Homo sapiens: one gene and its partners. The protein of the gene in region 4 purifies or fractionates together with the protein of the main gene of each other region. This does not show direct contact. Each region holds a gene or a part of one and is shown on either strand. Other genes may lie near its edges.

Region 1 (7,023 bases), on a different chromosome or scaffold from region 4:
TTTTCCCGTTAGACGTGGCTGCTTCAAGCCACTCATTCTAGGATATTAGGAAAGGATCTGATTTTGGAGACTCAGATCTGTATTAAGTTTACTTGAAGCTGAGGAGCTGAACTGGAAAGTACTGAGCATGAGATACAAGTGTGGCTTGTATTACAGTGGAATTAAGAACTTATTCTGGAGCTAGAGAATATGGGTTTGAAATCCAAGGTATCTGTGATCTTGTGCTAATGAAAATTTACTTATTTTTGAGATGATTTGAATACCACTCATTTATAAATATGGGTAGCATTCAGAATTATCATAAAGATTAAATGAGAGATTTTATATTGTATTTGATACATAATCATTTCCTTTCCCCTCTTTTTTATGATAAATGTAAGATCATGGTCGTTGCCTACCCAGCGTGATTTTTTTTCTCAAGAAGTTGAATATAAAGAACTTAATTATACTTCACTATTAAAATAGGTAATTTTGGTTGGTAGTTTACTTTTTTAAACAATGTTACCACTACCTAAATTTTGTTTTGTTTTCTTTTTTTTGAGACAGGGTCTTACCGTGTCACCCAGGCTGAAGTACAGTGGTGTGATCATGACTCACTGCAGCGTCAGCCTCCTGGCTCGAGCAATTCTCCCACCTCAACCTCCTGAGTAGACGGGCACATGCCACCATGTCTGCCTAATTTTTAAATTTTTTACAGAGACAAGGTCCTACTACGTTGCCTAGGCTGGTCTCAAAACTCCTGGGCCCAAGCAATCCTCCCAAAGTGCTGGGATTACAGGCATAAGCCACTGTGCCCAGCCAACCTGAAATATGTTTTAAAACTTCATGTTGGGGATTTATCTTCAGAGGCAGTTAGCAAACCTCTGATAAAGCAGATCCTAGTCAAAAATTGTATTATCCAGATTGCCCCACATTTCCCCCAGAAGTGGCACCAGGTGATCCTTGACTCCTTTCAGTAATCAGATTAATCATCCCAGTATGAATTTTTCACTATTAAGGCAGTTCAGAAGAATAATATTCCATAGGTTCTAGAGACAGTTCCCAGGGGAATTCCAAAGAGATTTGAAAATGATAGCAACATTATTACAAATATCTGGCCTCCCAAGAGAACTACCTTGATGGTAATTCATTTGTTTGGTTATATTTGTTTAATAAAACAAGGTCTTATTTTTGTCATGTCAGTTTTATTTATAATGTAGGGACTACCATTATAAATGTCTTCTGTTGCTGGGCATCGTGGCTCATGCCTGTAATCCCAACACTTTGAGAGGCCAAGGCGGGCGAATCACTTGAGCCCAAGAGTTCAAGGCCAGCCTGAGCAACTTGGAGAAATCTGTCACTACTAAAAATACAAAAATTAGCTGGGCATGGTGGCGCATGCCTGTAGTCCCAGATAGTTGGGAGGCTGAGGCACAAGAATCACTTGAATCCAGGGGGCGGAAGTCACAGTGAGCCGAGATCTGCTACTGCACTCCAGCCTGGGCGATAGAGCAAGACTCTGTCTCAAAATAAATAAATTAATTAGATAAAATAAAAAATAAATTAGCTGGGTGTAGTGGCACACACCTATAATCCCAGCTACTGAGGAAGCTGAGATGGGAGGATTGCTTGAGCCTGGGATGTTGAGGCTGCAGTGAGCTGAGATCATGCCACTGTACTCTAGCCTGGGTGACAGAGTGAGACCCTGTCTCAAAAAAAAAAGTCTTCTGTATCCTAGACTGCATATATCCTTCATCTCTAAATCTCATGATAATTCTAAAACATCAGTATTATCCCAATTTTAAAGGTAAGGATACTAAGACTTGGGGAAGGAAGTTATTTGTTACAATCATACTGATTAAAGGCCAAGATTTAAATCTAGGATTATCTCTACTCTAAAGTCCATATACTTTGTACTATATTTTCCTGCCTTTCCTGTTCATGAAATTTATCTATTTTTTAACTCTTCTTTAATGGAATGCTTCATGAATTTGCCTGTCATCCTTGTGCTAGGGCCATGCTAACCTCTGTATCGTTCTAATTTTAGTATATGTGCTGCCGAAGCGAGCACTGTTCATGAAATTTATTTTTATTTTATTTATTTTATTTTTATTTTTTGATACAGGGTCTCACTCTGTTGCCCAGGCTGGAGTGCAGTGGCACGATCTTGCCTCACTATAGCCTCTGCCTCCCAGGTTCAAGTGATTCTCCTGCCTCAGCCACACAAGTAGCTGGGATTACGGGCCTGCACCACTACATCCAGCTAATTTTTTTTTGGTTTTTGTGGGTTTTTTTTGTTTTTTTTTTTTTTTGAGACAGAGTCTTGCTGTGTCACACAGGCTGGAGCACAGTGGCACGATCTCGGCTCACTGCAACCCTGCAACCTCTGCTTCCTGGGTTCAAGCCATTCTCATGCCTCAGCCTCCTGAGTAGCAGGACTACAGGCATGTACCACCATGCCCAGCTAATTTTTGTATTTTTGGTAGAGACATGGGGTTTCACCATGTTGGCCAGGCTCATCTCGAACTCCTGACCTCAAGTGATCTGCCCACCTCAGCCTCCCAAAGTGCTGGGATTACAGGTGTGAGCCACCACGCCTAGCCTTAATTTTTGTATTTTTAGTAGAAATGGGGTCTCCCATTGTTCCTTGTTGGCCAGGCTGGTTTCAAACTCCAGGTCTCAAGCAATCCACCTGCCTCGGCCTCCCAGAGTGCTGGTATTAAAGGTGTGAGCCATCGTGCCCAGCCTTGTTTATGAAATTTAAATGGCACAGTATACACAAAGCTCTTATGCCAGTTTTTGGCAAACTATAAGTGCTTATTAACTATGGTACTTAATACTGTCAAAAACAATATAATAATAAGTCTATATGCATATAGGAAGTAATCGTAGTACTATTTGACATACTCTCTTATAGTAAACTATTTGGGTCACTTTTCTTCTCTTAATAACCCTTAAAATCAGTTGAACATGGTCAAGTCCACTGGGACTATTCGTTGTTTTTTATAAAGAAATAAGCACTATTATAACAAAGTCTTGACAAACTAGGTATCTTATTATACATGTTGTCTTTGAACATAAAGATGAGAGCTAGTTTATGCTCTGTATCTTTTTCTTTTCTTCCTTTCTGAGGTGTTTGCAGAATTAACCAGAGAGAGCCTTGCTTCTCTTGGTATATAAACATAAGGATGAAAATGAAATAGCTAAATTTTCAGTGTTTTGGCAGCAAGACAAAGCTGTCTTCTTTAGGACTATCATTATGAAAGTTTTTATATCTGTTGCTTGTCAATTTGTGTTACTTCTCTTTTATGTTTGGGTATTTTCCCCTTAACTTTATTTGAACCTATTTTGTGATGATGGGGATTCTGACCATTTATACCTCATATAAGGAGAAGAGCATCTTTCTCGTGGCCCACAGGAAAGATCCTACAGGAATGGATCCTGATGATATTTGGCAGCTGTCCTCCAGTCTTAAAAGGTATGACTATCCTCACAGATTTTTAAATCCTGGTGTTGGATTTGCCCTGGCATGTTGTCATTATCAACAGAAGACTTATTATGTGCCTACTCTATGTGGATCATAGGGCTAGTCATATAAAATGAAGAAAGGAGTATGGATGATCTAGAAGGTTTGTCCTAGCCCTATAGTTCTGAGATTGCGTTATCACAGAAATGCTCTGAGGATAAACTGTGGGAGAAGGTACTTTTTCCTGTGGCCAGTTAACAGAGACGATTAAGCATACAAAAGTATAAAGGCCAAAGATGTGAGATCAGTTATCTTTGAAGAATTCCATTAGCTTCTGTGTCTTCTATGATCCTGTCTTCTCTCCACGAATACAATCAAGAATATCTGGAGCAGTGCACTGGGCAACTCAAAAAAAGCACAATCTAGAGTCTGTTTCTGACCAGTGTCAGGTATAACTTTGTGCAGCTGACACACATGTGTTTTGTAGGTACCAAGAACTAGGTTCATGTTCCAATTCAGTTTCTTTCTAGCTGTATAACTTTGGGTAAATCATATAAATTATCTGAGGTTTAGTGGGGTCAAAAATGATGCCTAGAGTTTCTGGGAAGATGAAATACCAATTATAATAATAGCAAATGTTTATTGAACATTTACTGTATGTTGGGTATTCTGCTAAATGCATTATCTCATTAAGTTTTAGAACACTCATTTTATAGATAAGAATACAGGCCCAAAGTTTAAATCAACTCTTCCAGTATCATATAGCCCAAAAGTGGTAGAGCAGGAATTCCAGCCCAAGTTTGAAACCAGAATTCATACTCGTAGTCACTATCTTAAAAACCTATTATACTTAACTGGTGCATAATAGCCGCACAAATTATAGGTACAATTATTTATATATGAAGTTAAGTGTAGCATCTGTGCCATACAGACTGTCTCATTGCCAACTTGTAGAAGCGCCTATGAGAAAGGGAAGCAGACCTTCATTCTGTTGTTGCAGCTGAGTTCTTGCTTATCTCCTGACAGGGCTTCTAGCTGCCCTTTGGCCTCAGCCATCATAATCTGCATCCTCTACCAGGCCACTGAAGCTGAGTTGCAGAATTCTAAAACCTAGCGGCATTATAATTTCATTATTTTTATTCTGACTTTTGTATTTTTTAAGAACTTTTATATAATTCACCTACCATACATACAGTTCACCCATTTAAAGTGTACAGTTCAAAAGTACCTAGTAGTATTTACAGATATTTGCAACCATTATCACAGTCAATTTTAGAGCATTTTCATCACCTCAAAAAAAAAACCTCTGTACTCTAGCTAATCACTTCCCTATCCTCCCACTTGCCTGAGCCCTGGGCAACCACCAGTCTACTTTCTCTGTTCTCTTTTATGGACATTTCATATGAATGGAATCATACAATATGTGGTCTTTTATAACTGGGTTCTTTCACTTAGTGCAATTACTTCCTATGTATACTGCACACAAGGTTCGTTCATGTTGTAGCATGTATCAGTACTTCATTCCTTTCTATGGTCAAGTAACATTCCATTTTGTTTATCCATTTGTTGACAGACATTTGGGTTGTTTCTACTTTTTGGCTATTATGAATAATGTTGCTATACATATTTGTGTACATGTTTTTAGGTAGACATGTTTTCATTTCTCTTGGGTAATACACCTGGGAGAAGACTTGTATGGTATGCTAACTCTCTTTGTTTGATGAACTGCCAGACTGTTGTCCAAAGTGGCTGCCCTATTTTACAATCTCACTAGCAGTGTACAAGGGTTCTGATTTTTTTCACGTTTCCTGCTGATTTTTACCAACTGCCGTATTGTTGGTGGAGTGGAATGTGAATGTTCTTGCTCTCTTCCCGGCTTTCTGCTGATGTCTTCTCCCTCCCCCACCTCACCGACTGATTTAGTAGCTTAACAGTGGCTGATTCTGATGTCTTATTCCCACTGCCAGGTCATGTGATGTGAAAATGGCAATGAAAGGTTTCACAGACTACTAGTTGCCACGTGCAGACAACACAAGCTATGTGACTCTCTCGCAAAAAGTGATTTTGTCACTCCCCAGCAAATTCATTATACAGTCTAAACTCCTTCAGCATATGAAGTATTACAGCATTCATCCCCTAGTGACATCTCCAGCTTTCTTTTATGCCCCTCTCAAAATACATTCTCTTACTCTGGCAATATTATGGAATTTGCAATATGCTAAGTTATCCAAGTTTCCAGTGACCCCGTACCTTTAAACATATTCTTCTCTCTGGCTTAGCTATCTTTCTGTAACCTGGCTCACTCCTACTTCCAAGAAGCCTTCCCTGACATACCTTAGTCTTCCTTAACATGCCTTAGTCTAAATTAGGTGGTCCTAGTTATTCTTTTTTTTTTTGAGATGGAGTTTCACTCTTGTCACCCAGGCTGGAGCGCAATGACGCGATCTTGGCTCACTGCAACCTCCTCATCCGGCTTCAAGTGATTCTCCTGCCTCAGCCTCCTGAGTAGCTGGGATTACGGACCCACGACCACACCCGGCTAATTTTTGTATTTTTTGTAGAGATGGGGTTTCACCATGTTGGCCAGGCTGGACTTGAACTCGTGACCTCAAGTGATCGCCTAGCCTTGGCCTCCCAAAGTGGTGGGATTACAGGTGTGAGCCACCACGCCCAGCCCATCCTAGTTATTCTTAAAAGCATTTATGCTTACCTCTGTTAGTTACCACATGGAGCTATAATTATTTAATATCTGTGTCTCCTCCTGGGCCCGCCCCCTCCTCCAAAGTGTGAGCTCCTTTACCATTCACTATACAGTAGAAACCTAAGCCCAGGTGGGACTTTCTCACTCACCCCTTGGTAACCAGACCCAGCCCAGGGCCTGGCGTGGCATGTTTTGTTATGTGAATGATTGACATTCATCTGGGCTGGGCTGCAGCCTTGACCTCCTAATTAGTCTTTGCCTGCAGCCCAGTCATTGTCAGCCATCCACAAAGTCCCCTATAACCTAGCCATCTCTATGAACATTCCCTTCTCTTTTTTTTTTTTTTAAACAACAAATTGGATCCACTGAAACTTTTATTTAACTTTGTAATATGAACATTTACCATATAAGGTTATAAGACAATATAAAATCTATCTCATTTCATTTATAGCATAGCTATAAATCAATCTAATCTCTCTTATTAATGTTTTATATATATATATATATTTTTTTTTTTCCTGCATACTTAGGCAATATTTTCCCCAAGGGATATATCATTCTCAGTAAACTACCGCAAGAACAAAAAACCAAACATCGCATATTCTCACTCATAGGTGGGAATTGAACAATGAGATCACATGGACACAGGAAGGGGAACATCCCTTCTCTTTCTTACCCTAAGTGAAACCTGACCATAACCTCTGAGGACATATTTCCACTGCAGACTGCAAGTGGTGGCTGATGTTTCTCTCACAGCCTTCATTACTCCGGTACTACAGGTAGAGATGGGTCTCTCCTTTGCAGCTTCCAATGCGTCCTCTTCCCTAAAATCCCCCCTTTGAATGCATGTCATCACATTGTGCCACTTCTATGCCTC
Region 2 (7,604 bases), on a different chromosome or scaffold from region 4:
ATTCTATCAACAGAATGAATTCTAATTCATAACTTCAAGAATTCTATGATTTATAGTAATAGTAAATAAAAGACCTATTTGCTAAAATATGTTGAAAGACTAAATTACATGCAGTTAGGGACTTGCCTATCATTCGTTGAACTAACAATTGAATCACAATTTGAGATATCAGCAATTTTGTCAACTGCCATCCTGTATTTCTATAAATTTCATCGAAGAGGAAAAGTATAATGAAAAAAGAAACATCAGATCTTAGAACAACAGAATAAAAGAACGGTGACAAGTGATCTGGATGTAGAAAATTAGTAGGAACAATTTTATTTAAGTTTTTTGTTTTATTCACACAAAATGGGAATGCTACATTTGGGGGAGCTAAAAAACTGAGTCAACAAACTATTTTGCACAGAAGTTCCAAGGAAGATAAAAATGTTAGTATAGGAAATGCTTCCTGCCCTCAGTTGCTAGTGTAGGTAATTATAGAATTGCAAGATGACAGGTCCCTGGATGGCCTTGGCCATGCCAGCTCTTCCCCCTCTTGCTTGCAATTTTCAGGCAGAATGTACTGAGAATGCAACATCCTGAGATAAGGAGGAAGCTTCCAGAACAACCTGGGCTGCGTCCTCATTTTTCCTAAAACAGGATGTTCTGCAACACTTGTACTCAGCAATCTCAGTTACACCCAGGGTATAAAACCCAAAGTGTTTTTGGAGTCCCTCATCTGTGCTGCAACATGGGGTATGTGCAGATGAGGCTCCATCTGCCCTAAGCAGCTTTCCTGAGCCATGGGATCAGCTAACCATGGATCCTCCATTTCTGTGTATCTTTGCTGCCTATTTGTAAAAAATTTGCTTTGCCTGACTTACTGTTTGAGTGTTCTGCCTCACCAGATTAGAACTAAGAACTATTGCAAGAACCACTCAAGAGTTTGGCTGTTCAAAGTTTATAAAATAATATCACAAAGCAGCATAGTATTGTCATATTACTGACAGAATTCAGAGGTGGCAAACAAGTTGACAGACATTTTTGCAGGCTAGGATTTCAACTGTATCTTAAATAGATTTGAGAAAGCAGCATGAGGAAAGGATTTTAGGCAGGGAACAGGAGCAAAAGTATGTCTAAATTAGTCTGTGATACTTAAAACAGTTCAGTGAAAGACTAGAAGAATGGTACTTGGCAGTCAAGATCTGTGGTAGGCAAAATTCTAAGATGATACCCAATGGTCCTTGCCCGCATAAAATCTCCCCTACGTATATTAAAACATCATGTTGTACACTAAATATATACAATTTTGTCCATTTCACCTTAATAGAGTAGAAAAGGGGGAAATTTCCTAACTTGACTATGTGGGTAAAACATGAATACGATATCACTCCTGTGATCATAGGTTTGGATGTGGTTAGGGCCGCCAAAACTCATGTTGAAATTTGGTACCCAATGTGGCAGTGTTGGGAGATGGGGCCTAGTGGAAGGTTTCTGGGTCATGGGGGTGGATCTGTCATGAACAGATTAATGCCCTCACGGTGGTGGGGGGGGAGGTGAGTTCTTGCTCTCTCAGGAATGAATTAGTTCTCGAGTGTGGGTTGTTAAAAGAGTTTGGCTTTCTTGATTTGTCTCTCTTGCTGCTTCTCTCAACATGTGATCTCTATGCACACCCACTCCCCTTCTGCTTTCCTCCCTAAGTGGAAGCAGCGTGAGGCCCTTACCAGATGCGGCTGCCCAATCTTGGACTTTTCAGCCACCAGAATCATAAGCCAATTAAACCTCTTTTCTTTATGAATTGCCCAGCTTTAGGTATTCTGTTATAACAACACAAAATGGACTAAGATAATGTTATATGGCAAACGAAATTTTTGCAGATGGCATTAAAGTTACTAATCAGTTGAATAAAAAGGGATATTATTCAGATAGACCTTATCAACTCACATGAGCCCTTTAAGTCTAGGCTTAGAGATAGAGGAATTCAAGAGATTTCAGCAGTGGAAATATTCTGCTTGCCTTCAAGGAATAACTGCCATTGTGAGAGCCACATGGCAGAAAACTGTGGGTAGCCTCAATGTTAATGGCCACAATCAGCAGCCAGTAAGAAAATGGAGCCCTCAGTCCTACATTGGCAATAAATTGAATTCTGCCAAGGACTTGAAGAATGAGCTTGACTGAGGAACCCCAAGCCTCAGATGAGATTGCAGCCTTGATATGAGCCTTGTGACACTGAGCAGAGAACTCAGTCACACCACAGCAGAAGACTTTTGCCCCAAGGAAACTGTCAGATAATGTGTTAAGCTAAGTTTGTGGCAATTGTTACACAGCATTAGAAAACTAATACAGGATCCCAAAAGATAAGAGTTATCATCTACAGAAAATAGGTGGTATAATAAAGCTATAGAAGCTATAATTCCACCCCTTTAGAGGTTAACTTGTGAAGGTCAAAGAAATTGCTGATAGCAAAATATGTGATGCTGGGGCCTTTCTCAAATTCCTCACTAACATTCATTCATTCTCAGGCTCTCAGATCTAGAGTCAGGTGGATCTGAGTCCAAACCTGAGCTCTACCACTTAGCAATATGATCTTGGCCAACTTACTTAACTAGCCAGAGCTTGGTAAGTTGTGACGATTAATAGGAACTATGCATGTACAGGACCCAGTACGTATTAAACACTCAAGAAATGTTAGATGATGATGATGTCAGCTTTATACACAAGAAATAGGGTTGACCTCTATGCCCCAAAAATAAGATGCTGAGACAAAAGGGATTCCATCATTTGCCACTTCTCTATTTTAAAATTCTGAAACACTCCCTATTGCCTATGTCTAAACTCCAAGAAACTCTTAAAACATGCCACTGACTTCACCTTTTCGTTTCTTGAGACGGATTCTCGCTCTGTCACTTAGGCTGGAGTGCAGTGGTGTGATCTCGGCTCACTGCAATCCCCGCCTCCCGTGTTCAAGCAATTCTCTGCCTCAGCCTCCCAAGTAGCTGGAATTACAGGTGCCCGCCACCATGCCCGGCTGATTTTTGTATTTTTAGTAGAGGCGGGGTTTCACCATCTTGGCCAGGCCAGTCTTGAACTCCTGACCTCAGTGATCCATCCACCTCGGCCTCCCAAAGTGCTGGGATTACAGGCGTGAGCCACCGCGCCCGGCCAACTTCACCTTTTCACTTATTATTCTGCCTGAACCAGCACCTGAGCTCCAAACCTTTTTTTCACCTGGTTGGTTGCTCTCTCCTGTACATATGCATTCATACACCCCCATTATCCTGTATTTTAATTGTTAACCTGCCAATAATATCTCACTATATTGCACACTGCCCAATGGTTACATTTCCATACCCAGAGACTATCAGAGTACCAGGCAAAAAGCAAATAAGCCATATATTTTTAATGAAATGAATGTTCAGTCTTCAGGCCTTTAAGAAAAGCTGTTCCTGGAATGAAGAAAAAAAAAACACCAATGCTGTGGTTGTTTCTACATTTCTATAGCGTGGTGTTTAAACACTTAGCAACTGCTCTCCTGCATACACTTGTGTAGAGAAGTGGTTAAACAATATTCTCATCCTTCTTTTCCCAAGGAGAAAACCAAAAGCATACCAACCTTAAATAACACACACAGAGGGCAATCTTGAAAGACCTAAAATGACATATCTAGCAAGAAGCTGGCAGCCAAGCTTGACGCCTGCCTGCCTGCCTGTTGGTTCACTAGAAGAAAGTGGTTCTCAAACTTTAATATGTATACCAGTCACCTGAGGCTATTGTTAAAATGTAGTCTGATTCAGCAGGTTGCGGGGGAGAGGGAGAAGAGCCGAGAATGTGCAGGTCTAAAAAGCTCCCAGGTGATGCCAATGTTTCTGGTCTCCAGACCTAGACCTCTAGCTTAGACCTGTGCTGACCAGTACGTTAGCCACATGCGGGTATTAAGCCCCTGAAATATGACTAGATAAGCTGTCAGTGTAACATGCCGATTTCCAAGACTTAGTTAAAAAAAAAAAAACTAAACTATCTCAATGATTTGTACAGACCACATTGAATTAATATTTTGTGTACTTTGAGTTAAATAAAATGTACTAGTAGGGTTACTTCCCTCTATATTTTACATTCCACACGTGGCTCGCATTATAGTGCTACTGGACAGCGGTGCCCTAAACTAACAACCGTCTCCATTCTGAAGCTTCCACTATTGTGAGACTTTAAGAATAAAAGCAACACCTCTCTTCCCATAGGTGGTTCGAAAGCACACCTTTTGTTCCCCAACTATCTACCAGAAATAAAACGAAAAAACAAAGATTTAAAAAACAATAAAATTGAGTCCTTTCACTTCTGCTTAAGCGCCACCTAAGCCACTGCTTTTGTCTCCCTCCGGTTCCCACGCTCCGAGATCGTATCACCCACAGAAAAACAATAACTAAAAAGCGGTCTCCATCCCTGAAGCCAAGCTGGGAGAGTAGCCGAAGGTCGCGCTTCCTGGCCGCCAAAACCGAGGTGGAGGAAACTTGGTAGTCAGCGAGCTACGCCCTCTCGGCTCCTCCTCCTGCTCCTCCTCCAGGGCCGACCTCTTCAAGATGGCGGGCGCCGGAGACTAGCTTCCGCTTCCGGTGTGAGCGGCCCGGCCGGGGGGGCAAGATGGCGGCGGCAGTAGGGGTTCGTGGCCGGTACGAGCTGCCGCCTTGCTCCGGCCCAGGCTGGCTCCTCAGCCTTTCCGCCTTGCTGAGTGTGGCGGCACGAGGGGCCTTCGCCACCACGCACTGGGTCGTCACGGAGGACGGGAAAATCCAGCAGCAGGTAGCGGCCGGGGCGTCCCTCTTCTCCCGTGCCCGCCCTCGCCCCGGGGGGATTACCCTGCTTGGCCCCTGGCTGTTGGGCTCCGCGCGGCCCCGCCCCCAGCCTACCCTCACAGGGAGGTGGCACCGCGACCTCGGACTCCCTGCATTCGGACCAGGCAGGCACTTCCCGCTCCCCACTTGTCTCCTGGTCCTCGTTTGGCCCCCTAGAAGTTCTCACCCTTCCACCTCGCGGGCCGCGCGCCGCGTGGGGAAGAGTCGCCCAGCTGCGGGAGACGGGCCCTACGGACCTTTTTTTAGCTCGGGGTTTAGAAATCACAGATTTCAGGATTCCTGCCTTTGGTGCCTCTCGGGTTCACGCGTCACCGGCCCTCCCCGAGGAAATAGAAAGCAGGTGGCAGCTCCAGGGTGTGCGCGAGTCCCATGGTATGACAGCTTCTGGACCCCTAGCCTGTGGACCATTCGTGCTGCTCCCCTAGTCTCGTCTACCACATGGTGGATTTCGTTTCTGGTTGTGTTGGTTTCAGCTTGTACCGTTACTCAGGTCAGCAGTGGCTCATTAGAAACAACATAGAAACACTCCCCTTCAGAAGGAATGCTTGAAGATGCCGCTGGTGGCGTTGCCTGCATCTTTTCAGCTGTTACTGCCCTCGTTTCCCAGTGCACTTTGCTTTGTTTCTTTACCTAGTTCTTGTGACCCAGCCTCGCATGGAGGATATGCGATTTCCTGGATTCTTGTATGCCTGAACTAATTCCTCAGAGGCGAGACTGCTTTTCTTATATAACTTTATGATTGCCTGCGTTTTGTAAATGCTGCTGATGCCTAACGAGTGCGTGTGTGTGTTCCGCTACAGAATATTGGTAAACTTACTGACTTCGAACACTTGAGGACAATCTTGAAGTGTCTAGCAAACATTTAGAAAGTGAATTGTGTGCCCCATGCAATTTAGCCCACTGATCTAAAACGTTTTAACTAGTGTGGTGGGAAATTACTGGTCCTTTGGATTGTGTGTAATGAATCATGATAGGAACACATTCCAACGTTTAAGGTGAGGTTTAGATTTAGATTTGCCGTGTAATGTAATTGCAAATTCTATCTCAAGTAAGTTAAGTATAACTAAAAATCCGCCTAGGTATTCATGAGTGGTTTTCAGCATATCTAAGAAAAGACCGTGTTCCTATTGGGTAACGTTTTCTATATGACATACATAAAGAACAGTTTCCTTTTCATTGCCATACTATCTGAGACTTTAAATATATGTGTATGTGTTTCAGAAACCCAAGAAAACACTGTAAGACCATATGTGAGTGCTGGTTGCTTCCACCCTTCTTTTGTTTCTTGATAGTGGTTTTCCCTGAGGTCTCTATGAAGACGTGGAATTAAGTCACTCCTGCTGCATTTTGGGGAGCCTTTCTCCTGTTGGCTCTTCTGCAATATTGTTTTTGGCCACAGCTATTTATACTCTATGACATTGACTTCTCCTTCCCATTTTGGTGTCCTACCACTCAGCTGAAAAAGTAGCCCATCTAAAAAGTGAAAGCTGGTAGAAATGTTTTATGTATATACTTAACATTGCAATGGGAAAGTAGAGTCTGATTTTTTTTTTTTTTTTAACAAATTCCTTCTTTTTGCACTTTGGATACATATGTATTAATGGGGGAAGGCAGGGGTTACTGGAAACTTGCCTCAGAGAAGCAGGGAAGAGCTGAAGAATCTTTTGGATCTCTGCCAAGTCACTGCTGAGCTAAGTAATTAGGCTTAAAGTTTAAAAAGCAAGATTTCTCTATTACATGACTTTTTAAGTGATCCTTTTCATTGAATTTTCCAATACTTTGCTATACATAACATTTACAATGTTATGTTCAGGCAGCCACAAGATTTTATGCCAGAAGAAATAAGGTTGGTGTCTGCAGTGTAACAATAAGAGGCCAGGGGAGGAAAGTTGGATTTAATCTGAAGAAAAGGCACCACATATAAATAAAGTAAAAGAATTGGGTGCTGTGGTGAGCTGCCGAGTTCCACTCTGATAGCTGATTGTGCATGACCCATGCTTCCCTTCCTGGCCATAATTTGTATGCAGGTAGAATCCAAACTATCAATTTAGATCGTGATTAATTATAATATTTGTATATACTGTACTTAAGGACTTGAAAGATCACATTAGTGTATGAAATCCATATATATTGCAGATTTGTACATTCAGAAACATAATTAAAAGCTTAGTATATACAGATGCTCCTCAGCTTATGAAGGGGTTATGTGCTGATAAACTCATTGTAAGTCGAAAATACTGTAAGTCAAAAATGCATTTAATGTACCTACCAAACATTGTAGCTTAGCCTAACCTACCTTAAACGTGCTCACAATACTTACATTAGCCAAATTTGGGCAAAATCATCTAACAGCATCTTTTACAATAAAGTATCAAAATACCTCATGTAATTCATGAATACTTCACTGAAAGTGAAAAACAGAATGGTTATATGGGCACTCAGTACAGTTGCTACCAAATGCATGTCACTTTTGCAGCATTGTAAAGTCAAGAAATTATAAGTTGAACCATCGAAAGGTGGGGACCATCTGTATACTTTGTCCTGACATACCAAATTCTTGCTGCTTATTCTTGGTTACAATATTTGAATGAGAGCATAAGTGTGATTTCAGTTTTAAAGTGACCTACTACCAGGCAAAGGGCTAAGGGCTAACTGGATTAACAGCTTTTAGAAAATTAGAGTGGTACATACCTTTTGAGAACCTTTAATATTAAACACACCCAGATTAGATATATGGGTCATTGTTTTCCACAGTGATCATAAAGAAGTACTTAT
Region 3 (7,023 bases), on a different chromosome or scaffold from region 4:
ATTATCCCAGAGGAGGGGAGAGCCCAGCCCCTGGTAATTGCAGGCCTGCTTTGAACTGATAAACGGTGAGTGATTCATGTTTTCTTTGGAGTTCACATGTGCTCAGCTCCCAGCCCCGGCCCCACTGCCACTGTGAGGAGCCTGTTTTCTGGCTCCCGGGTCTTCCTTGAGCTCTGAGGCGGGGGCGGGAGTGGGGACTCCTCCCCTGCTGTTCTTGGGGCGCTGTCCGGCAAAGGCAGCTGGCAGCCTGCTAGGAGCACCCTGCAGTTCCTGCTCTGGGATTCCAGCCAAAGCTCTTTGCTTCTGAGAGCCTCGGTTTCCCCACCTGAGCAGTGGGTGTGTGCTGTGCACACACTGGGCAGGGAGTGTGTGGGGAGTGAAACAGGAGTGAAGAAGCATGGGGGGCTGCCGCACCCAGACCTGGCTGGCCCTCCGCATACCCTTCATTCATTCGCTCACTCACGGGGATTTATTGAGTCTTCCTGGGTCCCTGGCTTGGCTTGGGGATGCAGTGGCAACCACCCAGAGCCAGGCCCTGCTCTCACAGGGCAGCCATTCTGGCCGGGAGAATGGGAGCAATAAGTAATAGAGACCCTTCACGAGTCCTGTGCTGCAGATGAGAACAGGGTGACTGAGCAGGGCGGGGAGTGGAGACAGGGGCACAGAGGCCTGGGGGAGGGGCAGGCAGCCCCACACTGCATGTGGGCACCAGGCACAGAGGCTGATGGGACTGTGCCCAGCTCCCTGGTAGACTTGGAGAAGGCATCCATCTTCAGGCCTCAGCTTCCCCATCTGTAAAATGGGGCCAGACCATACAAGGGGTGTCTGGGATGGTCTGTGCAAACTGGCTGGCTGAGGCTTGAACTCAAGACTCAGGACTCAGCCTTGCTGTAGCCGGCTCCAGCCAGGAGTGGGTGAGAGGCCCCAGCACATCAGGCACATCCAGGGCAGCAGGCCCTACTGACAACCAAGGGGGTGGCACTGCTGACTATGCCTTGTGGGCAGGTGTGCCCTTTCCTCTTTCATCCATGAGAAAAGAGCTTTCATGCCCCTTTTGCAAATGGGGAAACTGAGGCTAGGAAAAGGGAGTGTCCCCATCAGAGTCATCTGCCTACAGAGTAACAGGGTCTAGATTTAGCCCAGTGCTTGGCTGCCAGTTGCTAGGCAGGGTGTGGTGAGACTTTTCCAGAGGCAGTGGAGGCCAGGACAGGATATGGGGACTCCCGCCAGGATCTGGGCAGCGCTGACCTCGTGTGCAGGTCAGAAGAGTGGCCTTAGCCTCTGCATAGGGACCTGGCTGTAGGTGGTTGTGGGTGGAGGGAGCCGAGTACCCTGGCAATCCAGGAAGGAGGGGTGGGCATTTTGTGGAGTTTGGGGTGGAGTCAATGGACCTTGGTAGTGAGTGTGACCAGGAAGTGAGGGCCCGATGTGGAGCAAGGCAGGAGGGGGCCACACAGGTCTGGGTGGGTATGGGGTGCTGAGGCTGGGAAGGGGTCACTGTGGAGGGGTGGAGTGCAGGGAGCACCTGCCAGCCTTCCCTGTGGAGGAATTCCTCTTTCCTTGGAGTTGGGTGTGAGGCTGGGAGCAGGACTGGTGGCTTGGATAGAGTGCTGAGAGTCAGGGCTGGTGGGCCAGGGAGCCTGGGAAGGGGCCGTGTGGCGGGGCACCCGTCGGCTGGGGTGGGGATGTGGGTGGGACACATTGCCTGGCTTCTGGACTGCAGGTCTCAAGGTTTATCCAGCATGGGGCTTGGGGTCCCACCGAGAGCAGCCCAGGCTGCCACCTATCCACAGTGAGAACTGCTGCCTGTGTGGCCTGGGCCTCCATGTCCTCCGTGGTGCCTCTGCTGTGGGCTGTCAGGGCGTGTTCGGGGGAGAGGCAGGGCTGTGGAGGTGGGAGTGAGCACTAAAGCCCATCTATGTCAAGCTTCTGTAGGGGACGGTGGTGGAGTATGTCCCCACCAGCCTCAGGCAGGGAGCTGGTGCCCACCCTGGGAGTACAGAGCTGTGGGGAGGGTCCTGCTCCCCAGTGCATAGGGAGGCTCTGGGTGAAGGCTGCTCTCCAGGTTGGTGTCAGATGTTGGTGTCAGCTGGGGTCCCATTCCACACCTCAGGCCCTTGTCACCTGCCTTCCTGTTCCTGGCCTCCGCCAGTGATGGCAGGGCACAGGTGCCAACGGAGTGACCTCTTGCCAGGTGTCCTGGGGATACCTGGTGCACCCCACAGCTTATAGGGCCTCAGGCCAGGGAGGTGCCCAGTTTGCCCCTGGCTCCTCCTGGTGGGTCAGGTTCTGCCTCCTGGAGGTGCAGTGGGCACGCCCAGCACTGGAAGGGCTCACACTGGGAGATCATAATATCATGGGATGGGCCATGCCTGCATTCACATGCCCTCTTCTGCCCCTTCCCCAGGGCTGAAGCTCCTGGCACCATGATGCTCACCCCAGCAGGACCAGAGCACCGAGGCCCAAGGCCCCAGCCTGCCATGCCGCTGCCACCGCGGAGCCTGCAGGTGCTCCTGCTGCTGCTGCTGTTGCTGCTGCTGCTGCCGGGCATGTGGGCTGAGGCAGGCTTGCCCAGGGCAGGCGGGGGTTCACAGCCCCCCTTCCGCACCTTCTCGGCCAGCGACTGGGGCCTCACCCACCTAGTGGTGCATGAGCAGACAGGCGAGGTGTATGTGGGCGCAGTGAACCGCATCTATAAGCTGTCGGGGAACCTGACACTGCTGCGGGCCCACGTCACGGGCCCTGTGGAGGACAACGAGAAGTGCTACCCGCCGCCCAGCGTGCAGTCCTGCCCCCACGGCCTGGGCAGTACTGACAACGTCAACAAGCTGCTGCTGCTGGACTATGCCGCTAACCGCCTGCTGGCCTGTGGCAGCGCCTCCCAGGGCATCTGCCAGTTCCTGCGTCTGGACGATCTCTTCAAACTGGGTGAGCCACACCACCGTAAGGAGCACTACCTGTCCAGCGTGCAGGAGGCAGGCAGCATGGCGGGCGTGCTCATTGCCGGGCCACCGGGCCAGGGCCAGGCCAAGCTCTTCGTGGGCACACCCATCGATGGCAAGTCCGAGTACTTCCCCACACTGTCCAGCCGTCGGCTCATGGCCAACGAGGAGGATGCCGACATGTTCGGCTTCGTGTACCAGGATGAGTTTGTGTCATCACAGCTCAAGATCCCTTCGGACACGCTGTCCAAGTTCCCGGCCTTTGACATCTACTATGTGTACAGCTTCCGCAGCGAGCAGTTTGTCTACTACCTCACGCTGCAGCTAGACACACAGCTGACCTCGCCTGATGCCGCCGGCGAGCACTTCTTCACGTCCAAGATCGTGCGGCTCTGTGTGGACGACCCCAAATTCTACTCGTACGTTGAGTTCCCCATTGGCTGCGAGCAGGCGGGTGTGGAGTACCGCCTGGTGCAGGATGCCTACCTGAGCCGGCCCGGCCGTGCCCTGGCCCACCAGCTGGGCCTGGCTGAGGACGAGGACGTGCTGTTCACTGTGTTCGCCCAGGGCCAGAAGAACCGCGTGAAGCCACCAAAGGAGTCAGCACTGTGCCTGTTCACGCTCAGGGCCATCAAGGAGAAGATTAAGGAGCGCATCCAGTCCTGCTACCGTGGTGAGGGCAAGCTCTCCCTGCCGTGGCTGCTCAACAAGGAGCTGGGCTGCATCAACTCGGTGAGTTGGGCAGGGGCGCCCCTCCTCCCGCGGCCCCATCCCCTCCAGGGACGACGGCATCGGTGTCAGATGCACGCCCAGTGGTGCCTGCTGTGTGCCTGGCCTGGCTTTTGGCTTGGCCATCCCCATGGCTCAGCTAGGTGGGGCTGCCCTTTTCCATCCCCCAGAGAGTGGGTTTGGACCCAGGGTGCTAGCCCCAAAGGCTGCTCCCAGCCATGATGCTGTCTTGTGCCTCAGAAGATGGGGTGACGAGGCCCTGCTGGCATAGTCCACAGCCCCTGTGGGACACTGGACAGAGTGCCAGCCACATGCCTGGTCCTACACCTGGTGCTTGCCTGCTCCATCTTGTCCCCATCCTACAAATGAGGTTATAGGATCAGAGAGGTGGGGTAACTTGCCCTGGGTCACACAGCAAGTGAGAGGCTGGTGCCAGAGCCTATCAGGTGAGCCCAGACACCATTTCCATGGAGCGCTTGTGTCCCCCACATGACCCTGGTGGCACCTGCCCGCTGGGCCTCTGCTTTTGCCCAGCAATGGGAGCTGATGGTGTCCTGGTGCAGGCCACAGTTAACAACTTGCAGAGAAAGTGACCCTGACTGCAGGGAGCCACAGCCCCCAGCACCCATCAGAAGGCACAGCTGGGGTGGGGCCTCTATCTCGCTGCCTTTCAGGGAGTGTCTTGTTCACACTCCTGGGCAGGCTCAGAGGGCACGGGCCTTGCTTAGGGTGGAAAGTGAAGGGGCTGGGACTCGGCCCAGACCTGGGACCCCCGAGGCCAGGCCTTCTGGGCTTGCTGCTGGGGGTCGCTGGCCATCGCAGGGGAAGGCCTCGCCCTCTCTGGCTGTAGTCTCCCATGTCTGACCTGAGGGTGTTGCTGGTTTTGTCCTCAGGGCAGAGTGGGACTGCAAGGGCCCCTCAGTCCTTCCGTCTCACGCTCACTGCCTGTGTGAGGCAGGGCCCATGTGTGCTTGGCAGATGCGGTTGTCCACCCTCCCCTTGGCTTTTCAAGGAACGTGTTTTCTCTGCACCATACAGATGGAGACACTGAGGCTTGTAGGGGCAGAGCCTGGGTGAAGCCCCACCACACTCTCTCTTTGTGCCCTGCCCCAAGGCTGGGGCCTGCTCTTTCATCCCTGGGGACAGTCCCCACTGCCCCCTCCCACCTGTTCATTCCATGTGGCCTAGCCCTGGCCCAGCCTCCCCTGCTCCTTCCTCCTGAGCAGCCTGGCCCCTGCCAATGAACCCTCTGCAGACAAGGACCATCTGCCCCACTTCTCCCCACATCCCTTCCCTGCCTGCCCTGCCCTCTCCTTAGGCCTGGCGGTGGAGCAGCGCCCCCTCCACACTGGCCCCCAGCTGCTCCGGAACCTCAAGCTATTGATTGCTTTCTCGTGCTCTTAGCTGGGAGCCCGCCCTCTGCCTTTCAGGTGTGATCTGCTCCCTCCTGTCTTAAACCCTCTCTGTCTGCACCTCTCCTCTGGGGGCTACCCCCAACCTCTCTAGAAAGACAACTGCACTCCCAGCCCTGCCCAGGGAGGCCCAGTCCTCCGGGAGAAGGTGCCCGGGGAGTGGCTCTCACCCTGCCCCTTCCCACAGCCCCTGCAGATCGATGACGACTTCTGCGGGCAGGACTTCAACCAGCCCCTGGGGGGCACAGTCACCATTGAGGGGACGCCCCTGTTCGTGGACAAGGATGATGGCCTGACCGCCGTGGCTGCCTATGACTATCGGGGCCGCACTGTGGTATTCGCCGGCACGCGAAGTGGCCGCATCCGCAAGGTCAGGCCTGGGTGGGGTGGGGTGAGGAGGGGGCTTGGGGCAGGAACAAAGGCTTGCGGCCGTCCCAGGTGGCAGGCCCAGTGCTGCTGTATGCTGTGGGAGGCTAGATCTGGCGTACAGGGGGCAGGGGGAATGTTGCCCTACACTAGGCCCAGTGACCTTGAAGGGCCCCACTCCCCTCTGTGCCTCTGCCCATGACTGGCCCCAGGCCCACTAAGCAAGGACACTTTGAGACCACGCAGGAGCCTGTGCAGGGGCCCAGGGATGCTGAGGCGGGGGCTGGCTCTCCAAGGGCACTTGACCTCCTGGGGAGGCTGCTGTGTGTGGGTGGTGAGGGCAGGCCTGCGCGGCCCCCTCCCCTCTGGGCCCTGCTCCCCAGCCAGGAGATCCAGTGTCTGCTGCCTCAGCACTCTGCCGGGCCAGAGGCCTTGGCCCTGCCTCTCCCCAGCCCCTCTACTGGGCCAAGGGCAGGGCAAGGGTAGTGCCCCTGCCTGTCTTTGGCTGGTGCTTGAGGAGCTCCAGCACACAGCCCTGGGCTGGCCCCACGGTGGCAGGGGGAGGGCTAGGTGCTACAGGGATGGCTGTCTGGTCTTCAGGGTTCTCCTTTCCTTCCCCAGAACAGTGGGCTGGACAGAGGCAGTGCAGAGCTTCCTGGAGGGTGTGGGTGGAGGGGAGCTGCCTGGGCTGGGGTGGGCACCAGGCTGGCCTGGTGTGGAGGAAGCTCCCGGAGAGACTGAAGGGTGGGGATACTTGGACACCCCAGAGGCCCAGTGGGCAGTGGTGGGTCCTGGGGTGCATAACCGGCACCAGAGGCTGGTGCCGATGCAGCTCCCCTGAGCCCATGTGTGCCCGCGAGTGGGGCTGGGCCGGGGGCTGGCCAGGGCTTGCAGCTCTCAGCCCGGTGCCCAGTGTTAGGAAGGGGGCCTCCCATCTCTGCCATGGTAGTTGCCCTGGGAGTGGTGGGGAGTCCTGCCCCTCCCTGGCTCTGTGATCTCTGGGAGGGGATCCCCTGCAGCCTCAGCTTCCCTCTGTGAAATAAGCCAGATGTTCAGGCTCTGGGCTGGGGGCGGGGGGTGCTGGTGGTCTTGGGGCCCGTGGGGGCCCAGCTGCTGATTGTAGGCCCCCCAGGGTGGGGGTGCCCTGGGGTCCTGCTGGTTCTGCTCATAGTGGCTATGAGGCTGAAGCTGATGGGGAAAGTCCTGTGACCCCTGAGTTGGGTCCTCTGCTGTGACTTCCCTCTTGGCCCCCATGTGGGGTACCGCCCTGTGGCTCTGGTGCGAGGCCCCTCCCGTCCTCTCAGCCTGCACTCCCTCTCCTCACACTGGAAGGCACACAGGGCTCTCGAGCGCATGGGGTGGGTGTTGGAGTGGGTTTTGCCAGACAGAGGACCGTGCTTGTGTGGAAGCCCAGTGCAGCAGCTTAGAGACATTTTGTGGGGCGCCCCAGAGCCTGTTACCCAGCCAGTGACCAGGTTCCTCTAGCCCTACCCTGTTCCTGCTGCCCAGCACTCACCCTCTTGTGCCCCAGGGGCACCGTTTGGGTCAGAGCTTTGCTGAGGGAGCAGCAGGAC
Region 4 (7,369 bases):
TGCCTCCCTGCACTCGCTGGAGGAGCAGCTCACCTCGGCACACAGGCACACACTTGCCCAAGCTGAAGAAGTGGGAGTGTAGCTCCTTGGTGAAGCAGATGTCTGCAGCTGCAGGGGTCCTAAGCAGGGACAGATGCAATTAGTCCTGCCCCCTGCACCCCGCTCCACCACCCTGCCCCCAGCATCAGCATGCAGAAGGGAGGCACAGGGGAGGGCCTGCGGGGCCCCACCCCATGCCCTGCCTGGACTGCTGGACGCCACCTCCTGGGCAGAGCAGGAGGAGGGCAAATCTGGGCAGAGGCAGGTGGGGCCGGCCCGGCCCACTTCGAGGGGCCCATTCCTCCTCACCAACGCATCAACTTCAGGTTCCAGATGTGGCGGAGTTTCAGGATCCCTAGAGGACAGGAAAGGCTTCATGCCCCAACTTCCCATATCCCCAGGGAGTGCCCTTCCTTCACCCCATCTCAGGGAATGAGGGACAGCAGCACTACCATTTCCCTACAGCCCAAAGTGGCATCTTTCAGACCCTTAGGCCAGATCATTCAGTTCTCCCTGGCTCCTCCCTCTCCCCCACCCTCCACATCTTACTAATCACTGCACCTGGACTGCCTACCTCCCCAACATACTTGGACAATGCCCATTCTTCTATACTTCTCCCTGTACTGTCACTGCAACCAGCCCAGTCTAGGCTAGTGGATGGCTCCAAGTCCTCCTTCCTGGCCTCCCAGGATCCACCTGTGACATCTATAGGCCTTTCTCCACCCAGCAGCCAGGGTGAGCTCTGAAGGGCTCCAGTGTGGCTAGGTGGCTCCCCATGAACTCTAGGACAGTTAAGCTCTCTGTTCAGGAGTGGAAGCCCCAGGCACCCCTCCACCCGGCCATCTGGTTACCAGAGCCAAGCAACTTCCTGTGAAGTCAGCAGAGCAGGAACCTCTAGGTGTGGCAACCAGGCTCCCAAATAGGGCTGAACGGTACACGCCCAGCCAGGGGCAAACCTGAAGCCAGGACACTGGGCTTCCAGTCCCTGGCCCAGAACTTCCTCACAGGATATCCTATGTCCAACCCCCAAATTTTTCCCAAGACTGTGGGGCCCTGGATGGTTTAGAGAACAGAGGGTTCTGGAGGCCTGACGTTAAAGGAGCTGTAAGATATGCCCTGTGGCCGTTCCTTGGTCCTGCTCCATGCCCAAGGCCCTCTCCAAATCATGCTCCCTCAGGGATGCTGCAGGAGCCACAAATCCAAGTCTCAGCCCTGGGGCAGAACGCCCGGAAACCGGAGTGCCAGGGCTCCATGAAAAGGCAGCGAGAAGGGGTTTGTTCTGACGAGGCTGGGCCCGTCCCGAATCCTCGCCTTTCCTCCCCCTGCCCAGCACACTGGCCCGGGTACCCCAGAGATGAGGGTCGTCCATGCAGGACTGGTGATTGGACACGGTGATGAGGGGCGTGGCCGGGCCTCGCTTCTCGATGAGCTCGTACAGCACCTCCCTGTTGTGCACGGTCAGGTGGTTCATGTACTCTGGCGGGGAAGGAGAAGTCAGGCGCTCCGGGCTCGCCCGCTAGGTCGGGGCCGCGGCGTCCCCCACCCTAAGTCCCACCTCCGGCCGGGCATGGGTACCCGGGCGGGCCTGCCTCGGCCTGGGCCCACTCACTGGTCCAGAAGCAGCTGTAGGTGCCCACCAAGCCCATGACGACGCTGCTGGCCAGGGTCCAGGTGAGCGGCGGCACCGCGGGGAACGGCCACTTCACGTGCAGAGGCATCCCCACCCGGCCCGCGGCCGGCGCTCCCAGCGCCCCGGGCCGGCCTGTGGGGCGCCTCTAGGTCTGCGACCTCGACCGCTCGAGACACTGGCCCCTGACTGGCCCGCGCACGGACGGACGGGGGCGCGGCGCAACAGGGGACTGGACCGAGGTCCCTTCGCAGGTCAGGCCGGAGCAGCGCCCGGCCCCGCTCTCTCGTCACTGGGGAGCGGTCGCCGGGGTCACAGGCCGTGGGCGCGCTGCGGAACGGGAGGAAACGGGAAGGCGGGCGCTGGCACCCCGGCCCGGTGCAACCGCCGGAAAGCGAACCTGCGCCGGTGCCCAGCCCGACCGACTGTCGCAAAGCGCGCACGGGCCGCTTGACGGCAGCGAGGCCAGCCCCGGGGCGGCGGGAAGTGGCCGTCACCCCGTGGGGCTCCCGCTTCCTGGCAGCCTCCTGCGCTCGCCTTTTGTCTCTCTAGTGTTTCTGTTTTTTGTTTGACACAGGGTCCAGCCAGACCCAGGCTGGAGTGCAGTGATGGGATCATGGCTCACTGCAGCCTCGATCTCCCAGACTCAAGCGATTCTCCTGCCTCAGCCTCCCGAGTAGCTGGGACCACAGGCGCCCGCCATCACACTCTGATCCACCCGCCTCGGCCTCCCAAAGTGTTGGGATGACAGCCGTGAGCCACCCCGCCCAGCCACATATACAATTTGACATAGTTACAGTACTACATGATACTATGTGTATGTAGCAATGTATAATCTACTGTATGGCAAAATATACAATATATACAGCAATATATACAAACATATTGTGTATCATATGTAATACAAGAAACAGTATTTTATACCATCTGATACAGTCACAATGTCAGCTACTACCTCTAGTTCTGAAACATATTCATGACCCGGAAAGAAAGCCCCCTATGCATTAAGCAGCCAGTTTTTTATTTTTATTTTATATTTATTTATTTATTATTATTTTTTTAGGAGTCTCGCTCTGTCGCCAGACTGGAGTGCAGTGGCACAATCTCGGCTCACTGCAACCTCCGCCTCCCGGGTTCAAGCTATTCTCCTGCCTCAGCCTCCTGAGTAGCTGGGACTACAGGCGCAGGTCGCCACGCCCGGCTAATTTTTTTTTTTTTTTGTATTTTAGTAGAGATGGGGTTTCACCATGTTGCCCAGGTTGGTCTCGAACTCCTGAGCTCAGGCAGTCCACCCACCTCAGCCTCCCAAAGTGCTAGGATTACAGGCATGGGCCACCGCACCCGGCAGTTTTTTATTTTTATTTTTATTTATTTTTATTTTTGAGACAGAGTCTTGCTCTGTTGCCCAGGCTGGAGTGCAGTGACGAGATCTCAGCTCATTGCAACCTCTGCCTCCCAGGTTCAAGCGATTCTTCTGTCTCAGCCTCCTGAGTAGCTGGGATTACAGGCGCAAGCCACCACACCTGGCTAATTTTTGTATTTTTAGTAGAGGCTGGGTTTCTTCATGTTGGTCAAGCTGGTCTCGAACTCCCGGCCTCAGGTGATCTGTCTGCCTCTCCTCCCAAAGTGTGAGTCATCCTACCTGGCCTGTTTTTTATTTTTAAACCATAATTTATTGATTTTTTTTTTTGAGATGGAGTCTCGCACTGTCGCCCGGGCTGGAGTGCGAGTGCAGTGGTGTGATCTCGGCTCACTGCAAGCTCCGCCTTCCAGGCTCAAGCAATTCTCCTGCCTCAGCCTCCTGAGTAGCTGGGATTACAGGCGCCCACCACCACGCCGGGCTAATTTTTTGTATTTTTAGTAGAAACGGGTTTCATTATGTTGGCCAGGCTGGTCTTGAACGCCTGACCTCGTATCCACCCGCCTCAGCCTCCCAAAGTGCTGGGATTACAGGCATGAGCCACCACGCCCAGCCCATAATTTATTGATTTTTTAAAATTTGTCCAGCCTTCTATTACCACGTCGAATCCATTAGCTACAGCCATCCCATGAGAAGCTGAGTGGATTCAGCCCCACCTCCTGCTCACAGACCCTGTCCGAGCACCTCATTTGTCCCAACAGCATTACTGCAGGACCCCCAGGACGTTGGACTGCCAGCTCCCTGGGTCTCCTCCTCTCTGGGGCAGATCCTCAGTCCTCCCTTGACTTCACGACTGTGGCCAGATCATGTGTGGACTGTCCCTCTCTTTGGGTCTCCAGAGCGCTTGCATCAAACACCCCTAACTCAGAAGTGTGCAGCCACACTGGGACTCAGAACCCAACAACAGGGACAGAAGACTCACGCCCTTGGGGTGCCCGGTCTCGTGGCATCAGGCATGACTTCCAGCTCCTGCGCCTTCCCCAGCAACTGCTGACTGGGGACCCAGACCGGGAGCTGAGCGACGGGCCTGGCGAGCGAAGCTCGGGGTCTCACTCAGGCACCAGCCCCTCCTTGCCCCAGGCTTGAGTGACTCACAGGTCTGTCATGTCCCGCTGGCCCGGGAAGGCGGGGTCTGGGTGGGAAGGTGGGCGGGCAGGTCAGCAGTTCCCAGGCCTGGTGCTGGTCCTCCTTGTTGGCGGCGAGGCGGAGACGGGGCGGGCCTGCCTGTTGGCAAGGGTGGGGCGTCCGGCCCAGCCAGGCCCTTCCTGGCCGGGTGGCTCAGGAACACAGCCTCTTCCTCTTTTTTTTCCCCTCCTAGCCCTATTCAGGCAGGAGCTGCTCTTCTGGGGTATCGCGATCCACTTAAGGATGAGGCAGACTTGGTGACAAGCTGGTCTGAGCAGGTATGGGAGCCCCCTGGGGAGACGGAAGAAGGGAGGAAGTTGCCTTCTGCCTGGGGAGGGTTTGAGAGGGAGAGGGAAGCCTAGGGCTCCCACCAAGGCTGATATTGACAGCCAGGGTTTGGGGCTGAAGCCAGGAACCGTCGCTCTCTCTGGTTCTTACTGGTAGCCCTCATGGGGGTCCCTGACGCCAGAGCCTCCAAGGCTGCATGTGCCAGCCCAGGGCTGCCCACATACCCATGTATATCCCAGAATAGGCACCAGGGTAGGGAACCCAAACTAGCATGAGTGACAGAGCAGGTGGTCAGGGAGAAACAGACATCAAACCCAGCCAGGAGAGAGACACCGCAACAGAGAGACAGAGAAGGGAAACCAGAGACGAGAGGGAAAGTGAGACAGAGACGGACAGAGCCTCAGAGAGGTAGGAAGTGAGCCCGAAGGGAAGGTGACAGGTTGATAGAGAAAAGCAGGCAGACAGAGCAGAGGAACTCATGCCTCAGGATGCAAAAGCCACATGGACAGGGCGTGGAGCAAGGAGCCGAGCCCTGCAAGGTCAGGTGAGTGTGAGACAAAGATAAACTGAGAGAGGGGGGCTCCAGCTGGTGAGATGAACAAGAAGGGCTCCCCAGTGGTGGCAGGGGCATGGGAAAGAGTCCCCATCACAGGTTGCAATGGGGATGATTTGGCCATATCTGAGACCTTTTAAAATGCACACACCCTTCACTGCCGGGAGTTTATCTTAAAGAGAACATCTCACAAGTGGGGAGACAGAGATGAACGAAGATGTTCCTGTAGTTGCTAATGGAGGCGAAAAGCACTGGGGTCTTGGAACAACATGGTGAAACCCCATCTCTCCAAACAAATTTTAAAAATTAGCTTGGTAGCCGGGCGCGGTGGCTCACACCTGTAATTCCAGCACTTTGGGAGGCTGAGGTGGGAGGATTACTTGAGGTCAGGAGTTTGAGACCAGCCTGGCCAACATGGTGAAACCCTGTCTCTACTAAAAGTACAAAAATTAGCCGGGTGTGGTGGCACGTGCCTGTAATCCTAGCTACTTGGGAGGCTGAGGCAGGATAATCTCTTGAGCCTGGGAGACGGAGGTTGCAGTGAACTGAGATCAAGCCACTGCACTCCAGCCTGGGAGACAGAGTGAGACTCCATCTCAAAAAAAGAAAAAAAAAATTAGCTTGGTGTGGCAGCATGCACCTGTAGTCCCATCTACTCGGAAGGCTGAGGTGAGAGCATCACTTGAGCCTGGAAGGTGGAGGTTGCAGTGAGCTGAGATCACATTACTGCCCTCCAGCCTGAGCAACAGAATGAGACTATCAAAAAAAAAAAAAAAAAAAAGGGGGGGGGCCGGGCGCGGTGGCTCACGCCTGTAGCCCCAACTACTCAGGAGGCTGAGGCAGGAGAATCACTTGAACCCGGAAGGCAGAGGTTGCAGTGAGCCAAGATCACGCCACTGCACTCCAGCCTGGTGACAGAGCAAGACTCCATCTCAAAAAAAAAAAAAAAAAAAAAAAAAAAGGTAGACTAGGCCAGGCGCAGTGGGTCAGGCCTATAATATCCCAGCACTGGCTGGGCGCAGTGGCTCACACCTGTAATCCCAGCACTTTGGGAGGCCAAGGCCGGCTGATCACCTGAAGTCAGGAGTTCGAGACCATCCTGGCCAAGATGGTGAAACCCTGTCTCTACTAAAAAATATAAAAATTAGCTGGGCGTGGTGGTGGGTGCCTGTAATCCCAGCTACTCGGGAGGCTGAGGCAGGGAGTTGCTTGAACCCAGGAGGCTGAGGTTGCAGTAAGCCGAGATCACGCCACTGCTCTCCAGTCTGGGCGACAGAGTGAGACTCTGTCTCAAAAAAAAAAAAAAAAAAAAAAAAAAAAAAAAAAAAAATCCCAGCACTTTGGGAGGCTGAGGTAGGAAGATCACTTGAGTCCAGCAGTTTGAGACCAGCCTGGGAAACATAGAATTCAGGAGGCTGCAGTGAGCTGTGATGGCACCATTGCACTCCAGTCTGGGCGACAGAGCAAGACTTTGTCCCAAATAAATAAACAATAAAAGAATAAGCTTGACCGCTTGTGCACTGTTGGCGAGAACGTAAAATGGTGCAGTCACCATGGAGACCAATATGACACTTCCTCAGAAAATTAAAACTAGAACTACCATATGATCCAGCAATTCCACTTCTGGGTATATACCCAAAAGAACTGAAAGCAGGGGCTGGGCGCTCTGGCTCACGCCTGTAATCCCAGCACTTTGAGAGGCCGAGGCGGGCAGATCACGAGGTCAAGAGATGCATGAGGCTGGGGCACCAGGGCTCATTCCTGCAATCCCAGCACTTTAGCAGGCTGAGGCAGGAGAATTGCTTGAGCCCAGGAGTTCAAGACCAGCCTGGGCAACATAGTGAGACCTTGTCTCTATTTAAAAAAAAAAAAAAAAAAAAAAAAGGACACGGTGGCTCACACCTGTAATCCCAGCACTTTGGGAGGCCAAGGTGGGCAGTTCACCTGAGGTCAGGAGTTCGAGACCAGCCTGACCAACATGAAGAAACCCCATCTCTACTAAAAATACAAAATTAGCTGGGCGTGGTGGAGCGTGCCTGTAGTCCCAGCTATTTGGGAGGCTGAGGCAGGAGAATCGCTTGAACCTGGGAGGCAGAGGTTGCAGTAAGCCGAGATCGCACCATTGCACTCCAGCCCGGGCAGCAAGAGCGAAACTCCGTCTCAAAAAAAAAAAAAAAAAACCAGATGGATGGATGAATGAATGAATGAACAAAATGTGGTCTACCCAGATGCCCAGACAATGGAATATGATTCAGCCATGAAAAGGAAAGAAATTCTACAGCCGGGTGCGGTGGCTCACGCCTGTAATCCCAGCATT

What was found.
Region 1: the proteins of DNASE1L1 (region 4) and SPCS2 purify together in Homo sapiens (affinity purification with mass spectrometry; 4 studies listed by BioGRID and IntAct, with this or other methods). This does not show direct contact.
Region 2: the proteins of DNASE1L1 (region 4) and TTC17 purify together in Homo sapiens (co-immunoprecipitation; 2 studies listed by BioGRID and IntAct, with this or other methods). This does not show direct contact.
Region 3: the proteins of DNASE1L1 (region 4) and PLXNA1 purify together in Homo sapiens (co-immunoprecipitation; 2 studies listed by BioGRID and IntAct, with this or other methods). This does not show direct contact.

Annotation. Positions count from the first base shown.
Region 1 is NC_000011.10:74,966,243-74,973,265, forward strand, and holds part of SPCS2 (signal peptidase complex subunit 2), read left to right. Parts: intron 1-3,322; coding exon 3,323-3,457; intron 3,458-7,023. UniProt on the Homo sapiens protein: Component of the signal peptidase complex (SPC) which catalyzes the cleavage of N-terminal signal sequences from nascent proteins as they are translocated into the lumen of the endoplasmic reticulum.
Region 2 is NC_000011.10:43,354,338-43,361,941, forward strand, and holds the start of TTC17 (tetratricopeptide repeat protein 17 isoform 1 precursor), read left to right. Parts: upstream 1-4,582; 5' UTR 4,583-4,617; coding exon 4,618-4,776; intron 4,777-7,604. UniProt on the Homo sapiens protein: Plays a role in primary ciliogenesis by modulating actin polymerization.
Region 3 is NC_000003.12:126,986,114-126,993,136, forward strand, and holds part of PLXNA1 (plexin-A1 precursor), read left to right. Parts: intron 1-2,407; 5' UTR 2,408-2,480; coding exon 2,481-3,674; intron 3,675-5,270; coding exon 5,271-5,453; intron 5,454-7,023. UniProt on the Homo sapiens protein: Coreceptor for SEMA3A, SEMA3C, SEMA3F and SEMA6D. Necessary for signaling by class 3 semaphorins and subsequent remodeling of the cytoskeleton. Plays a role in axon guidance, invasive growth and cell migration.
Region 4 is NC_000023.11:154,406,232-154,413,600, reverse strand, and holds the start of DNASE1L1 (deoxyribonuclease-1-like 1 precursor), read left to right. Parts: upstream 1-4,346; 5' UTR 4,347-4,489; exon of another isoform or gene 4,490-5,043; intron 5,044-7,369. Other genes in the region: tafazzin, read right to left, coding at 34-119, 349-394, 1,387-1,515, 1,595-1,757.